2 separate regions of the Homo sapiens genome follow, and region 1 is linked to region 2. The links come from fine-mapping of genetic effects on gene expression. A gene starts in region 2. The other region holds a variant in brackets. All regions are shown on one strand. Distances are between the middles of the regions.

The links. PIP is the estimated chance that this variant, and not a neighbour inherited with it, causes the effect.
Region 1: its variant is fine-mapped to the expression of UBAC1 in whole blood (INTERVAL, PIP above 0.99).

What each region holds. Positions count from the first base shown.
Region 1 is chr9:135,925,017-135,927,914 of GRCh38, reverse strand. No RefSeq gene overlaps it. Among named protein-coding and RNA genes, the nearest start is that of CAMSAP1-DT, 19 kb to the right of the region's middle. RefSeq lists enhancers at 955-1,004, 2,041-2,120. The variant G/A (reference allele first, on the strand shown) is at 1,261.
Region 2 is chr9:135,959,708-135,962,605 of GRCh38, reverse strand. UBAC1 (UBA domain containing 1) reads left to right here and starts at 1,233. Exons shown (of 10, transcript NM_016172.3): 1 at 1,233-1,581. The coding sequence starts at 1,444. RefSeq lists silencers at 1,084-1,493, 1,504-1,623 and an enhancer at 1,113-1,613.

The DNA of each region.
Region 1 (2,898 bases), 35 kb after region 2:
TGTGTGTGTGCATGCACAGGTGTGTGCATGTGTGCTGTGTGCATGCACAGGCGTGCATGTGTGTGCATGTGTGCTCTGCATGCATAGGCGTGCATGCGTGTATGCTGTGTGCATGCACAGGTTTGTGTGTGTGTGCGTGTGCTCTGCATGCACAGGTGTGCGTGTGTGTGCATGTGTGCTCTGTGTGCATGCACAGGCGTGCATGTGTGCGTGCGTGTGTCGTCCAGGGGAGCATCACGGGGAGGCCAGGCGTGTGCCCAGCTCCCCAAGCAAGGCCTCCTGGCTTCCCTTCCGGCTGTCCCGTGGCTCCTGTGTGGCCGGGGCCTCTGGTGTGGGCCGGCAGCTCTTGGCCCCCAATGGGGATGGAGCAGCTCCAGGGTGCCTGGGACCAGGCTGGCACTGCTGGCAGAGTCAGTAGGATGGGTGCAGCCCCTGGGGACAAGGACAGGAAGCAAGGGCAAAGGCACCTCCAGGACAGGCCAGGACAACTTCTTGGCTTCCACGCAGCCTTCCAGAGCAGGGCCACAATGCTGTCCCTGTTCCAGGCTTTGGAATGTCCTAGAGATGCTTCTCAGGTGGCCAGCCCTGAGTCCTGCACTGGAACCCAGAGAGGCAGGGCACATCCCCAAGGCCACATTGCCGTGGTCACAGAGCAGGTTAGGGCGCTGGGGGATCCCCGCCTGGCCTGCCCAGGAGAGAAAGGGCTCTCTGTGCGGCCCCGGTGCTCGAGTCCTGGAGGAGCCTGTGGCTGCAGGCTCTCAGATCTCCTCCCTTCGGGCGGGGTCTCTGGCACCTCTGCCTCTGACTCACTGGCCACCAATGGTGTCAGCAGAGGGAGCGGGAGTCCCCGGCTGCCTCAGCAAGGCCCTGTGGTGCCCGCCTGACTCTCAGGGCCTCTCGCTTTTGTTGTCCTGAGTCACCACCATCAGGAAGTCACACTGCCCTGAGGCGGCTGCGTTGCCAGGAAGCCTAGGCCACGTGGAGAGGCCACTCCAAGAGGCCACATGGATGTGCTCAGGGTGACAGCCAGAAGCGACCGCCACAGGTGGAAGTGAGGAACACACTGAAGGCCTCGCTGTGGTTGGGTCACCTGGCCGTTCTCTCCACGGCGAAGTGGAGACCACCATGGCACTGGGCCCTGCCTGGGTTCCCTTCCCGGGGCCCTTGAGTGCGGCACGATAAAGGCTGTGCGCAGCTGCCACACCTGGTGTCACTGGTCACTTGGAGTCACTGCAGCACCAGCTGAAGGAGAGAGGGTCC[G/A]GCTCAGCTGAGAGGCCGCTTCCCATCCAGTGACTGGAGGCAACTTTGTTGGAGAGTTTTCCAGCCTGAGACGGATGCAGGGGAATTTGGAGACTGGTCCCAGCCAGGGTGCATCCCAGGGTGTGGTGGGGGCTGCCCCAGTCGGCACGTCCCGCAGATCCTCACACCCTCTGGCCACTGAAGACCTCTGAGGCCAGCCTAAGGAGGGGCCTGCAGGGCTCTCCTTGTTTTTTTTCTTTGAGGCGGAGTCTCTGTCGCCCGGGCTGGAGTGCAGTGGCAAGATCTCGGCTCATTGCAACCTCCGCCTCCTGGGTTCATGCCATTCTCCTGCCTCAGCCTCCTGAGGAGCTGGGACTACAGGCGCCCAGCACCACACGCAGCTAATTTTTTTATTTCTAGTAAGACGGGGTTTCACCATGTTGGCCAGGCTGGTCTCGAACTCCTCATCTTGTGATCTGCCCACCTCAGCCTCCCAAAGTGCTAGAATTATAGGTGTGAGCCACCACAACCGGCCGTTGTTTTTAGGTTTTATGTATTTACTTTAGAGACGAGGTCTCGTTCTGTCACCCAGGCTGGAGTGCAGTGCAGCCATCACGGCTCATTGTAGCCCACAACTCCTGGGCTCAAGCATCCTCCCGCCTCAGCCTCCAGGGTAGCTGGGACTGCAGGTATGCACCACTGCGCACAGCTAGTTTTTAAATGTTCTCTAGAGACGGGGTCTTGCTGTGTTGCCCAGGCTGGTCTTGAACTTCTGGCCTCAAGCAATCCTGCCTCAGCCTCCCAAAGCACTGGGATTACAGGCATGAGCCACAGGGCCCGGCCTCTCAGTGCTTTCTGAGAATGAGCTGCTTTTCTCTTCCGCCCCCAGACCTGAACCTCAGTGTTCCTGGAAACTCCCACGCTTGCATTCTGATGCTGAATTAATCACCGTGTCCCCAGGTGGCTGCTCTTGCCAGCCAAGCACTGAGGCCTCCAAACTCAGTCCCAGGATGGCGGCGGTCGGACCCCACGCTTCCTTGGGGCTCGCTGAGGGAGGGGGTCTGACCCCACAGGCCCTACCCAGGAGTGAGTCCGGGGCCAGGGTGGCCCTCGCAGACAGCGGACACTCTCGCTGCTTCCCTCCTATCCAGGCTGGGCCCACCACTTCCATGATGTGGCTGCCCTCACCATTAATTGCTTAAACCTGGGAGACGGAGGTTGCAGTGAGCCGAGATCACGCCATTGCACTCCAGCCTGGGCAGCAAGAGTGAAACTCCATCCCCCACCCCCCCAAAAAAGAACAGCTCTACTAGGCTCTACCTGACATGCACCAAGCTGTGTGTGCGAGGTTCACAGGTTGGAGGCTCCTGAAACAAGTGGGCACCTGGGAAAGCATCAAAGTCAAGACCCCCAGCACGGGGGACCTGCAGCCGCCAGGCCACTGGTTGCACAATTCCTGAGCCGGCGGGTTTCTTTCGCCTTCTGTAGGTTCGACCTTGAAACTACAAGAGTGAATCTGAAAGTTAGTTCAAAAAGTCAAACGGGTTCACAGCAGCCAAGAGGTGGCGACAACACGAAGCCCATTGGTGGAGGAGTAGGGGGGCAACATGTGGTCACCCAGACAATGGGGTGTTCGGCACACGAGGAGGTGAGCCCTGA
Region 2 (2,898 bases):
ACAGAATAAAAGCCTGCAGGCAGGAGGCAGAGACAGCCTCCCCGGTTAGATTGCTAACCTCTGAGAACGGGAACTGTGCCTTATTCATCTCTGCGCAGTAAAGTTTTTTTAAATGAATGGGATGAATGAGTACAGATCAGTCAATGTGTCAGGTCTAACCTGAACTACAAAATTCATATTTAGGAGCATGGTAAGTAAGACGTTATCCAGGACTGTTGAGCTAGGTACAGAGACCACTGCCAAGGGGGCTTGCAGTGGGGAGAGAGGTCAGGCTCAACTCCCAATACAGCAAGGGCAAGTGGGTGGGGTCAGTGAATGGAAAATTAATAGGAGAAAACATCAGGGATGTGGGCGGTTCTGGCTAAACCGACCTGACAGGGTTCTTGCTGAAGAGAGGCTGGAGATATCAGACAGCACCTGGGGGACGAGGAACCTGACCAGACGTCCAGGGTGATCTGATATTGAGGCTGGGAGTTCTTGCTAAACTCACTTATCAAGGCTCTTCGCTAAAACTGGATTTTACAAGGAAGTGTACAGATGATGTAGAAGGTTCAGGAGCCTGCTTAAGTTTGGCCAAGCAAAGACTCTTTGTCACACCCCACAGAAAATGAGTCTGCCTGGCATCACCTGCACCAAGGGCGGCTTCCCTCCCCTCTGGGTGCCCCGCAAACCTAGGCTTCGCAGGAACAGTGACTCTCTGATCTGCGTGTGAATTAGAAAGACCTAGGCTTGTTAAAGCCAAGTTCTTTGGAGAGCCTCCGTTCTACAGCAGTGCAGTGCAAAAGAAATATCACAGCAGCCATGTAGGCAATTTAAAATTCTATCTTAAAAAGGTTAAAAGAAACAGGTGAAATTAATTTTAATGACATATTTTTCTTAACTCAATAGATACAAAATATTATTTCAACATGTAATCAATATGAAAACATTATCGAGATGCCTTACATTCCTTTTTCCCGTTACTTCTTTGGGATCCAGCGTGTATTTTACCTTTAGAACCCATGAGGTCCCACGTGGTGAGTGCCCCGGGTGGGAACCGCCTGCAGCTCGGGGAGGAACGAAGCTACCAGAGAACTACAGCTCCCGGCATGCTCCGGGCGCGCCCCGTGACGCACTTCCTTTGCGGTGGCCACAGCGCGCCCCCGGCGGCGGGAGCGAGGCGCCTGTCCGAGAACCACATCTCCCGGCATGCGCCAGACGCGCCCGTGACGCACTTCCGGTGCGGCCGCGACGGCGCGCCCCCGGCGGCTGCTGCGGCGGCGGGAGCGAGGCGACCGCTGAGGCCGCGGAGAGTGACGGCGGCCCGGCCGACGGGAGCCGGGGCGGGGCGGCGGCCCAGCGAAGGAGCGCGCGGGCGGTCTGGCCCCGCCCCCTCCCCGCCCGCCTTCCCGGTGACCTTCAGGGGCCCGGGTGGCGGGCGCAGGCCCCTGCGGCGGCGGCGGGATGTTCGTGCAGGAGGAGAAGATCTTCGCGGGCAAGGTGCTGCGGCTGCACATCTGCGCGTCCGACGGCGCCGAGTGGCTGGAGGAGGCCACCGAGGACACCTCGGTGGAGAAGCTCAAGGAGCGCTGCCTCAAGCACGTAAGGCCGGGCCCCCTCCCCTGCCCCCAACACCCGCTCCGGACCCCTCCGACTGCGGACCCCGCCTCAGTCCCCGAACCGCCCCGACCTGGGGTCCGCCGCCCAGTCCGCAGCTCCCAGGCCCTCTCCTCCGGGGGTGGAGGCAGCGCCTCCTGCCCGTTTGCCCGACTCTCCCCCTTTCGGATCCCACACCTCTGGACGCTCGTCCCGGGCCTGGCCTTTCGGCCGGCGGACTCCGGTCACTAAGCGCTCGCCCCGTGCCAGCCGCCCGGCCGAGCCCTGTACACGCCAGCCTCTCAGTTAACTCTGCAGCCACGCAGGGAGGTAGGGGCAGATCGGGAAACTGAGGCCTGGAGAGTGAAGTCGCCGACGGAGCAGGGCCTCGGGACTTTCCGGCAGTTGTACCTTTTTGCTGTTGGGGTGAGGTTTTTTTTCAGCAGCATCTTTGAGAGCTGAGAATTAACGTAGGCTCCTTCATGAAGAGGCCCCTTCTCCTTCCTCTTCCCCTTTCCCGCAGAGCCGGCTGCTTGGAGCTCTTTTCCTGGCTGGCCCCAGGCCACTGTGCCTTTTAGCTGGAGTCCCTGAAATAGTGCCGCTGCGGGACAAGGCCCTGCGCCCCTGCTTTTCTGCAGAGGTAAAATTGGTCAAGAGAGAAGTCCCAGGAGTAGGGTCTCCTCGCGGAGACACTTTTTAAAGTTTATTCACCTGAAATACTCCTGTGTATTTAGTTCCTTAGGTTGCTGATTTTTGGAACTAGTTCTCGAGTCTCTAAAGGACTCAGTAAGGTCAGCTAAGAAGCCTGTCTGTGTGTCAGACTGACCTCCTGTCTATACCTGACATGATCTGAGGGCTTGGCAGAATTTAGGTTGAAGGAGGCTGCAATTTTCTAGTGGCGACTCCATGTGATAAGTTACGACGTATCTGTGTTGACAGGTTGAGTGCGTTACACTTGAGCTGAGTGTGGTCTCTAAGGATAAACTTCAGTTCTTACCATAGTAGCTGCTCGCATACAGTACTTTCGAGTTGCTTTTGTGAGCATGGTTCTGTGGAGTTCTGGAACTGTCAGAGGCAAGCTTGGCAAGCCCCCTTCTGGAACGCACTGGCTGTGAATAACTGGGAGGTGCTGGCCTCAGGATTCACACCAAGGAGGGGGCTGAGCCTCCTGCGTTCAAGGGCCGGTATGTTTTGGCTGCTTTCTTGCTTTTCTTCTGCCCCAGTCTGCATGATTTTGCCGTCTGAACAACCATCGGGGCATCACTAAGCTCCAGCGCCGGTAACTCCGTGGGCATCCAGGCTGTTTGAGCCAGGTGGTGTTGC